Regions from separate parts of the Homo sapiens genome. Here region 2 is linked to region 1. The links come from fine-mapping of genetic effects on gene expression. A gene starts in region 1. The other region holds a variant in brackets. All regions are shown on one strand. Distances are between the middles of the regions. Region 1 holds the start of DCAF11 (DDB1 and CUL4 associated factor 11). Region 2 overlaps CARMIL3 (capping protein regulator and myosin 1 linker 3).

Region 1 (5,512 bases):
CTCCACCTCCCGGGTTCAAGCGATTCTCTTGCCTCAGCCTCTCGAGTGGCTGGGATTACAAGCGCATGCCACCACACTCGGCTTTTTTTTTTTTAGTGACGGGGTTTCACCATGTTGGCCAGGCTGGTCTCGAACTCCTGACCTCAGGTGATCCACCCGCCTTGGCCTCCCAAAGTGCTGGGATTACAGGCGTGAGCCACCGCGCCCGGCCAATTTTTTTAAAAAATGATTCCGTCCTGAGACTTTGCTGAAGTTGCTTATCAGCTTAAGGAGATTTTGGGCTGAGACGATGGGGTTTTCTAGATAAACAATCATGTCGTCTGCAAACAGGGACAATTTGACTTCCTCTTTTCCTAATTGAATACCCTTTATTTCCTTCTCCTGCCTGATTGCCCTGGCCAGAACTTCCAACACTATGTTGAATAGGAGCGGTGAGAGAGGGCATCCCTGTCTTGTGCCAGTTTTCAAAGGGAATGCTTCCAGTTTTTGCCCATTCAGTATGATATTGGCTGTGGGTTTGTCATAGATAGCTCTTATTATTTTGAAATACGTCCCATCAATACCTAATTTATTGAGAGTTTTTAGCATGAAGGGTTGTTGAATTTTGTCAAAGGCTTTTTCTGCATCTATTGAGATAATCATGTGGTTTTTGTCTTTGGCTCTGTTTATATGCTGGATTACATTTATTGATTTGCGTATATTGAACCAGCCTTGCATCCCAGGGATGAAGCCCACTTGATCATGGTCGATAAGCTTTTTGATGTGCTGCTGGATTCGGTTTGCCAGTATTTTATTGAGGATTTTTGCATCAATGTTCATCAAGGATATTGGTCTAAAATTCTCTTTTTTGGTTGTGTCTCTGCCCGGCTTTGGTATCAGAATGATGCTGGCCTCATAAAATGAGTTAGGGAGGATGACAAATGGGATCTAATTAAACTAAAGAGCTTCTGCACAGCAAAAGAAACTACCATCAGAGTGAACAGGCAACCTACAACATGGGAGAAAATTTTCGCAACCTACTCATCTGACAAAGGGCTAATATCCAGAATCTACAATGAACTCAAACAAATTTACAAGAAAAAAACAAACAACCCCATCAAAAAGTGGGCGAAGGACATGAACAGACACTTCTCAAAAGCAGACATTTATGCAGCCAAAAAACACATGAAGAAATGCTCATCATCACTGGCCATCAGAGAAATGCAAATCAAAACCACTATGAGATATCATCTCACACCAGTTAGAATGGCAATCATTAAAAAGTCAGGAAACAACAGGTGCTGGAGAGGATGTGGAGAAATAGGAACACTTTTACACTGTTGGTGGGACTGTAAACTAGTTCAACCATTGTGGAAGTCAGTGTGGCGATTCCTCAGGGATCTAGAACTAGAAATACCATTTGACCCAGCCATCCCATTACTGGGTATATACCCAAAGGACTATAAATCATGCTGCTATAAAGACACATGCACACGTATGTTTATTGCGGCACTATTCACAATAGCAAAGACTTGGAACCAACCCAAATGTCCAACAATGATAGACTGGATTAAGAAAATGTGGCACATATACACCATGGAATACTATGCAGCCATAAAAAATGATGAGTTCATGTCCTTTGTAGGGACATGGATGAAATTGGAAACCATCATTCTCAGTAAACTATCGCAAGAACAAAAAACCAAACACCGCATATTCTCACTCATAGGTGGGAATTGAACAATGAGATCACATGGACACAGGAAGGGGAATATCACACTCTGGGGACTGTGGTGGGGTCGGGGGAGGGGGGAGGGATAGCATTGGGAGATATACCTAATGCTAGATGACACGTTAGTGGTGCAGCGCACCAGCATGGCACATGTATACATATGTAACTAACCTGCACAATGTGCACATGTACCCTAAAACTTAGAGTATAATAAAAAAAAAAAATGATTCCGTCACATTCTGGGAGAACGCAGGTAAAATCAATCAATAAATAAAGATCCCGATTTTCCAGGCTGGATAACCCAGAAACCACGGAATCCTAAAGTCTCAATAAACGTTAAAGCACAGATAGTAAGTAATCTGGCAATAGAGGATGGGCGCCCAGCAGACCGCCTACATAATCAGTGGAGCCGAGTGCAAGATGAAAATACCAGGCACTTGCTTTAAAATTACTAATAATTTCAAGACCGTTAACACTAGAACATTAAACCAAACATTCAGGACCCTTCTAAGCGCAGAGGCCATCAAAGCTAGCCCTGGTGACAAGCTCAGGTCTCCGGATCTAGAGACTAGGAGACGTCGCCCGAAAGCTGGCCAAACCCTCGCCCTCACTGGGAGAGGCCCCAGGAGGGCCCAAGAAGGCCACGAGCCCTCGCTCCCATCCCTGCCCTCAGGAGCGGGCGGAGGGAAGCTCGCAGCTTTCCCAAGGAAGTGCAGGCTGCAGGGAATGAAGTTCAGCTCGGACCCTGAGCCTCTGAGCCCGAGACAGCAAGGTCATTCAACCCACACGTCCCCACCCAGCCAGGGCGAGGATCAGAGATGTGGCAACTCCCGGCCTTGGACTCAGGCTTGTTACTCATAAACCCGCAGGAGGGGGCAGGAGGGGGCAGGAGGCGGCGAGCGCGCACCCTGGACCCGCGGCCGGGGGCGGAGAGGCACCGCGAGGACAGAGGGACTAGCGAAGGTCTGCAAATCCCGGAGGGCCAAGGGAGCGTCAAAGGGGACAGCGGAACCGGAAAAGCTTTGACAGAAAGACGCGTGTATTAGGGAACGTCTGCAAAGACCGCGGCGGAAAGCCAGGGATTGTCTTAAAAAATTGTCAGACCGGATAAAGGGAGGTCTAAAAGGGGACCGTCCCAAGAGCAAGGCTTCCAAAAGCTAAGCCCGGAAGGACGGTATGGAGGTCTACTGGGACGCTGGGCACCCCTTAGGGCAGAACCGACTGGAGCTGCGGCCAGCGACAGAAGAACGGCTCCAGCTGGACAGGGGAAGCAGTGGGGAGAAAGGAGGCCCTTGGGCACTGTCTGAAAAGTGCGATGCCAAATGATCTTTAGGGACAGACAGTAAATTATATCCCTTGCTAAAATACCTCTCGGTAGCGAACCACCAAACGTTTCTTTTTTAAGCCCCGCCTCTCAGCCGTTACGCCTAGTTCGGCTGTCTCTGATTCAGGAAGCTGGCAGTTCCCACTTACTCCTCCCCAGCAAGAGCTAACAGCCCTCCTTGGGTGTGCACTTTCTCCTCCCCTCAGGCACCTCGCGCATTCTCCCGCCTACCTATCAATCATCGTGCTCCGCTGTCCAGTTGGCTGGCCAAGGGGGCGGGGCCGTCGTGTGACGTTTGCAGCCCGCCGGCCAGGAAGCCGCGAGATGCGTGACGAGCGAAGCGCGTGACGGAGGAGCGGTTGGCCAACGCAGTGGCGGCAGTCGGTGTAAACAAGGCCTCGCGCCGCTGCGGGTCCTGCGACCGCTCCTGGCTGGTGGGTGGTCTCGCGTGGGGCGGTTACCGCCGGCTTCAGTGGGAGGTGCTTCTCGGCTTCCTCCCCCTCATGGCGTACACACCCCCGGCGCACCACGTGGGCGTGAGGCGAGGAAGGAGGGGTGTTAGGCCAAATTCTATTTTCATTGGCTGTCACTGCTGCCGGCCTTTGTAAGGGGGCGCTCTGATTGGTCGATAAGGTGGGGGCGTCGAGGGTCTTTGAGTCCTAAGGCTTCTAATTGGTTAGATGAGATAAGCTAGTGAAGCGCTTTCTTCCGAGAGGGATTTCGATTGGTCGGTCAGAGAGGTTACCTGGAAATCCAACACCGCCCAACACCCCTCCCGCTCCCCAGTCCGGGGACTTCGATAGGTGAGTTTGGTGTAGAAAACAAATCTTTCTTCAGTTGGTGAGCTAGGGTAGCGCACTACGGTTCACTCTTGCTTTCTTTGCTTCACAGGATTGGAGAAGGTTTGTGTTCCCGACGCCTTGGTAGTTGGCATAGGCTAAAGAAAAGGGATCTCAGCCCCGAGGAAGGGTCACCCTCCTAGAGATAGCTACTACCCCGTCTCAGGAGACCCTGGTATTTCTAGAGCACGCTTTGCTTTCACCAAACCCAAGGAGGTGACAGGAGGAGCCCCCGCACAGGACCTAAGAATGCTGTGACCAGAAGATGGGATCGCGGAACAGCAGCAGTGCAGGATCCGGGTCCGGAGACCCCTCCGAGGGCTTGCCCCGAAGAGGGGCTGGCCTGCGTCGGAGTGAGGAAGAGGAAGAAGAGGATGAAGATGTGGATCTGGCCCAGGTACTGGCCTATCTCCTCCGCAGGTAACTTACCCTCTGGTGTGACCCCCAGCAGGTGCTACCACAGTGCCTTGATCCCAACTCCAGGCAGGAAAATTACAGAGGTTAGGAAATGGGATTCGCTCAGGACAGCTGTTCTGTTTGAGCTGAACAGCCTTTCCCTGCTGGGCACCCATGGCACTCAGCTCCATACCCAGTAAGAGTGGTTCTTACCTAGGGAGGGTCACCAAGAGGACCTGCTCATGTGTTTGAGGGGCTATTCAAGGGAGCCTGTCTCTGTGACTACACAAATATAGTCTATTTTCCAAGTAAGCTTGAAAAAAAAAAGGGGGGGGTCCTAGTGGGAAAGGAGTGATGTAAGGGGTGAAGAGATGGGAAGGGAGTGTTGAACTTTTTAGTAAGGCAGTTGACACATGATATGAGGCCACTTCGATTTACTTGAAAAACAAGTTTAATTTGCCCTGACTCTAACCTGTTCTTGAGGAAAGAATGCCTTGAAGGGAGAGACCACCTGGAATTGACTGGAAAAGGGTGCAGCTGGCTTTCTTTCTTTGCTTATGGCTCTTTGAGGAGAAGATGGGTTTGGGGGTCCCTTCAGAATATTGTATTCTTTTTTGTTTGTGTTTTGTGTTGTTTTTAGTAGACATAGACAGGGCTCACTGTGTTCCCCAGTCTGGAGAACGGGCTATTCACAGGTGTGATCAAGTGCACACCACAGCCTGCAACTCCTGGGCTCAAGCAATCCTTGCCTCCCAGGTAGCTAAGACTACAGTTGCACACACCACCGCACCCAGCTTAGAATATTGTCTTCTGTGGTGGACTTCTCAGGCAGAGGCTCAGAAGGAAATGCTGTGAGGATGTTTAGCTTGTTGGGAGGTCAACTTAGTAGGTCATGTCCACAGCGTATTGGTCTTGCTCTTGTTCTAAGGAAATGATGTTAGAATGTTTAGCTCGCTGGGAGGTCAACTTAGTAGGTCACGTCCACAGCATGTTGGTCTTGCTCTTGCTGTAAGAGTAAAACTCTCTTTCCTACTGTGTTTTATAGGAGACCAAAAATAACAGCCAAGGTCTAGTCAGCCTCAAACCTCAAAATGAGTACCAAGTGGTCTAAGAGCTAGATAGCCATTGACTCTGAATTTGGTTGGTTTGGGGGAAGAAGTCCCCTCCTTTATAATGGGGGTCTCTCCACAGAGGCCAAGTGAGGTTGGTGCAGGGAGGAGGTGCAGCAAATTTACAATTCAT
Region 2 (5,000 bases), 56 kb before region 1:
TTAACTACCAAGCAGGGTGGGCTGCTCCAGTCTTGAGGACCCAAAGCTGACCTTTGTCTCAGCACAACTTCCTAAGGTGTGGAATGCCCCCAGGTACTCCGGAGTGGTGACAAGCTCCCTGGCAGGCCCTGAGCTGTTCCCCTGTTGTGGGGGCCTCTGACCATGCAGCCCCAGCCAGGCAGTCAGGTAGAGGAGGAGGGGAAGCCCAGAGGCTGGGACCTGGGGCTCAGCTCAGGACAAATCCTTCCTCCCCTTCCCTGAAGGGACTTTGTCCAGAAGCTGGCCGGGGTGTTTGGGGAGAACGGGAGCTGTGTGCTGCATGCCCTCACTCTGTCCCACAACCCCATCGAGGACAAGGGTGAGCCCCAGCCCTGAATCCTGTCCCCATCCCAATGCAGACCCCTGTCCTAGCCCAGAGCCCAACCAGGTCTGAACAGCAGCTCTCCAGCCTGATTCCAGCCCCTGCCCTGACACCTCCATCCTTGACCCAAGGCCTGTACCCTACTCGAGCCCCCAACCTGACTCTGTGCCACCTGCACCCACTGCCCTGCCCCTCACTGGGCCCGTTTCTCTCTCCACTCCCCAGGTTTTCTCAGTCTGAGCCAGCAGCTCCTCTGCTTCCCCTCTGGCCTCACCAAACTGTGCCTGGCCAAGACTGCCATTTCCCCTCGAGGTACTCGCACCAAGGACCCCTGACCTCTGACCCTACCCTGGTGCTGCCTGGGGTGTTGAGCTCCAGAGGTACACCCACACATTCACACACCACCTCAGGGATGGAAGAGTGAAAAGGAGCCACGTTTGGGGAGAGGGGAAGAGTTATGTGCTGAGGGGAAGAGGTGGGGCTAGGGGCCAACCCAGCCCAGTGCCCGCTGTGCTCAGGGCTCCAGGCACTCGGCCAGACCTTCGGGGCAAACCCAGCATTTGCCAGCTCCCTTCGATACCTGGACCTGAGCAAGAATCCTGGGCTCCTCGCCACGGATGAGGCCAATGTGAGTCCTCAGAACAGCCTCAGCCCCCTGCAGAAAGCATGCTTAAGCTTCAGGAGCTGGGAGGCCTTCTGCCCCATGGCCTCTGGGGGTGGCGAGACTCCATCATCCCTTCCCCTGCAACCCCTCTTCCTTCCTACTCCAGGCCCTCTACAGTTTCCTGGCCCAACCCAACGCCCTGGTGCACCTGGACCTGTCAGGAACTGACTGCGTCATCGACTTGGTGAGGAGTTGGTGATGGGAAGCCAGTCTGAGGTGATTTGGGGAAGACCACAGTGGGCCTCGGTCTCACCCCCTATCCCTGAGTACACAGGCGGGCAGAGCTGTCTAGATGACTTCAGGTTCAGCTGAAGTATAAAGCAATGTCCATAGTTCATACCTGTGTGGCACTTTATCCAGGTCACAAGCTTGTGCTTGCTGTGCTTAAAAGCCAGCCCTTGCTCCCTTCCCCAGCTGTGCACCCTGGCTCCACCAGGGGAATGGATGCTTTTCCTAACTTGAACAAGGCACCTTAGGAGTCAGTGGTGGCCCTGGCTTTACACATCCACTGCCTGTGAGCAGCTTCATGCCCCTGGAAGCCAGGCAGGGAGTAGACCCATGTTCCACAGGGGAGAAAACAGAGACTTCAAGAATCTGAGTGGGCATCTCCAGTGGAGCTCACACAGGCTGACCACAGAGAATGAAGAGCCAGGAACCTCGATGGGGAGGGAGGGGGAGTCCTTTCCTGCCACCCCCTACCCCCTTCCAGCTCCCCTGAGACCCACCATATCTCCCCCCACAGCTTCTCGGTGCCCTGCTCCACGGCTGCTGCTCCCACCTCACCTACCTCAACCTGGCTCGCAACAGCTGCTCCCACAGGTGGGAGAGGAGGGGGAAGGGAGGACAGGGCAAGACATGGCCAACCCCCTCCCTCGCTGACCCCAGGGGTCTCTCCACAGGAAGGGTCGAGAGGCCCCGCCGGCCTTCAAGCAGTTCTTCAGCAGCGCCTACACACTGAGCCACGTCAATCTGTCGGCCACAAAGCTGCCCCTGGAGGCCCTCAGGTCGGGTGGGTGCAGGGTTGGGGGCGCATCCAAGGGAACCACGGGGAGCGGGAAGAGGTAAAGGAGGGCCTGCTGACCTCCCTCCCACAGGGCGCTGCTTCAGGGCCTCTCCCTCAACAGTCACCTCAGTGACCTGCACCTGGATCTCAGCAGCTGCGAGGTGAGCCCTCAGTCCCCAACCCCTCTGCCCGCCTCCGATCCATGTGCATTTCTCAGACCTAAGTCAAACCCTGGCTCCATCTAGCCTCTGTGCTGACCCTCTGCGACCCCCTGACCTGGCCACACCACCACTTTCCCCTCTCAGTCTGGCCTCTTTTCCAGAGGCCATTCATTCTCAGTCTCTAGTATCTCTGCCCTTAAAGCTTTGGGGTGGGAGATACCAGACTTTTCCACCAGAG[G/A]GCAGGAGCAAGCTGTCTTAGGAATAGCAGCCTTCCTGGCCGAAGGGAGGGAAGCCAGCTCTAGGGAAGGATCTGGTGTGGGGAAAGAGTCTCCCTGATTTTACACCCAGATCCTGGCATGACTTTGAGTTCTGGTGTGACTACTATATCCTAAGCATTAAAGGTGCCCTACCCCCACCCCAACCCCTGCCTTCCCTACCTCACCTTGTCCCTGCAGCTCCGTTCAGCGGGAGCCCAAGCCTTGCAGGAGCAGCTGGGAGCTGTCACCTGTGTAGGCAGCCTGGATCTGTCAGACAATGGTGAGTAGTGGTTCCTCCCTTCCCTGGGGCCAGGGGAGAACAGGGGCCTGGAGCATGCAGAAGCAGCCCTGATGGGACACCAGTCAGCCTCAGGCCTCCAGGCCAGGCCTCTCCCATCTGCTCACCAGGGTTCGACTCGGACCTCCTGACACTGGTGCCTGCACTTGGCAAGAACAAGTCCCTCAAGCACCTGTTTTTGGGCAAGAACTTCAATGTCAAGGCCAAGTGAGGCCCCCTTTCCATGCCCACAGACCCTCATCCCATCATTCACCCATCCTCTTGGCTCACCGTATTACCTCTGGCCACCTCTCTCCTCCTCCAATAGCATGACCCCAGCCCTTCCCCTCCTACTCTGAGCCCCGCCTCCCTGCAGGACCCTGGAGGAGATCCTCCACAAGCTGGTGCAGCTGATCCAGGAAGAGGACTGTGTGAGTGCCTGGGCCTGGGAGGGGACCTGCAGTCGGAGGAGGCTGTGGGGACTGGGTCCAACCGCCCCTTGCCCACACAGTCCCTGCAGTCACTGTCGGTGGCAGACTCCCGGCTGAAGCTTCGCACCAGCATCCTCATCAATGCCCTGGGCAGCAACACCTGCCTGGCCAAGGTGGATCTGAGCGGCAATGGCATGGAGGACATCGGGGCCAAGATGCTGTCTAAGGCCCTGCAGATAAACTCCTCCCTCAGGTGGGGCCCACACCGGGACCCCCTGACCTGGAGCCCCAGCCCCTCCCCATATGTACATAATCTCCCTGCTTTCCTTGATGCTCTGGACCCCAGCTTCCAGAAGACCCCCAGCCCCAGAACCATCTCTGAGTCAGCCTTATTGCCCCAAGAGGTTTGTGTCCCTGGCCCCTAGTAGGGACCCAGGAGGAGAGGTGCCAAACTGGTGCTTACCCTCCCCCCAGAACTATCCTATGGGATCGGAACAATACATCTGCCCTGGGCTTCCTGGACATCGCAAGGGCCCTGGAGAGGTGAGTAGACCATGGTCCTGCCCTGATCCAAGTCCCCAGCCTCCCTGTGCCTGGATCAGGCCTGAACTACTCTTGCCCCACCCTAGCCCCTTTGACCTATTTGCACAGAAATTTTAGGAAGGGCCATGGAAGACAGAAATGATGAGCAAGGGGGCTGGAGGGCTGCTCACCAACAGAGGAGGCAGGGGCCTCCCATCCTCACCTGTTCCCACCCAGCTGTGCCCCTGTGTCCCACAGCAACCACACGCTGCGCTTCATGTCCTTCCCCGTGAGCGACATCTCCCAAGCCTATCGCAGCGCGCCTGAGCGCACCGAGGACGTCTGGCAGAAGGTGCAGGGTGCTGTCCTAAGCAGGGTGGCACAGCAAGGGGCAGGGGGCAGCCCCCATCCCCAGGCCCTGACCCACCAACCCCATCATCTCCAGATCCAATGGTGCTTAGTGAGGAACAACCACTCCCAGACGTGCCCCCAGGAGCAGGCCTTCAGGTTGCAGCAGGGCCTGGTGACCAGCAGCGCCGAGCAAGTAAACGTTTCCCTCTGGGACACGGGGCATACCCGGGGCATGCAGGGCACAGTGTGATGTGATGGAAAATTGAGTGGGGGAGCATGAAGAGGCACTGCATGGTGCCTATCACTGGACTGAGCATGTGGGGAAGCAAAAAGAGAGGACATGCAGGATATGGGCTTCAAACATATGTGGGCGAACAGCAGGAGTGCACAGGACTCTGGGAGCTCAGCTGGGCATTCAAGAAGGCTGTAGCAATGGGGACCAGGCCAGCCAGAGACATCACCTCCACCACTGTCGGTGCCAGCACCAGTAGCACTGTCTAAGGGGTCCTACCTGCGAAGATGTGGAAGCAGGGGTCCCCTTGACACCCCTGCCACTGTGCTCCAGATGCTGCAGCGGCTGTGTGGACGAGTGCAGGAGGAGGTGCGGGCCCTGAGACTATGCCCCCTGGAGCCTGTGCAGGATGAGCTACTCTACGCTCGGGACCTCATCAAAGATGCCAAGAACTCCCGGGCGGTGAGCCCTCCACAGGCTACCCTTCCCCTGAAGTCTGGAGAACCCAAGAAGGCCGACCATGCTAAGCCATGACAGCCCTGCCCTGTGCATCTGCCTTCCTAGCCCAGGGACCCCAGAGACCTAGCAAGTCCTGGTTCTGGCCTGCTAATCATAACCCCTTCCTTCTCCAGCTGTTTCCCAGCCTCTATGAGCTGGGCCACGTGCTGGCCAATGATGGGCCTGTGCGGCAGAGGCTGGAATCAGTAGCAAGTGAGGTGTCCAAAGCTGTGGACAAGGAGC

The links.
Region 2: its variant is fine-mapped to the expression of DCAF11 in whole blood (TOPMed, PIP above 0.99).

Annotation. Positions count from the first base shown.
Region 1 is chr14:24,111,456-24,116,967 of GRCh38, forward strand. It overlaps DCAF11 (DDB1 and CUL4 associated factor 11), which reads left to right and starts at 3,322. Exons shown (of 15, transcript NM_025230.5): 1 at 3,322-3,838; 2 at 3,927-4,294; 3 at 5,462-5,512. The coding sequence starts at 4,140. It overlaps NRL (neural retina leucine zipper), which reads right to left and starts at 3,494. Exons shown (of 3, transcript NM_001354768.3): 1 at 3,267-3,494. RefSeq lists enhancers at 2,575-3,290, 2,872-3,011, 3,252-3,401.
Region 2 is chr14:24,056,036-24,061,035 of GRCh38, forward strand. It overlaps CARMIL3 (capping protein regulator and myosin 1 linker 3), which reads left to right. Exons shown (of 40, transcript NM_138360.4): 11 at 264-358; 12 at 587-673; 13 at 880-989; 14 at 1,132-1,209; 15 at 1,768-1,844; 16 at 1,925-2,029; 17 at 2,120-2,189; 18 at 2,645-2,726; 19 at 2,855-2,951; 20 at 3,100-3,154; 21 at 3,235-3,407; 22 at 3,629-3,697; 23 at 3,935-4,028; 24 at 4,122-4,220; 2 more. Among named protein-coding and RNA genes, the nearest start is that of CARMIL3, 6.5 kb to the left of the region's middle. The variant G/A (reference allele first, on the strand shown) is at 2,428.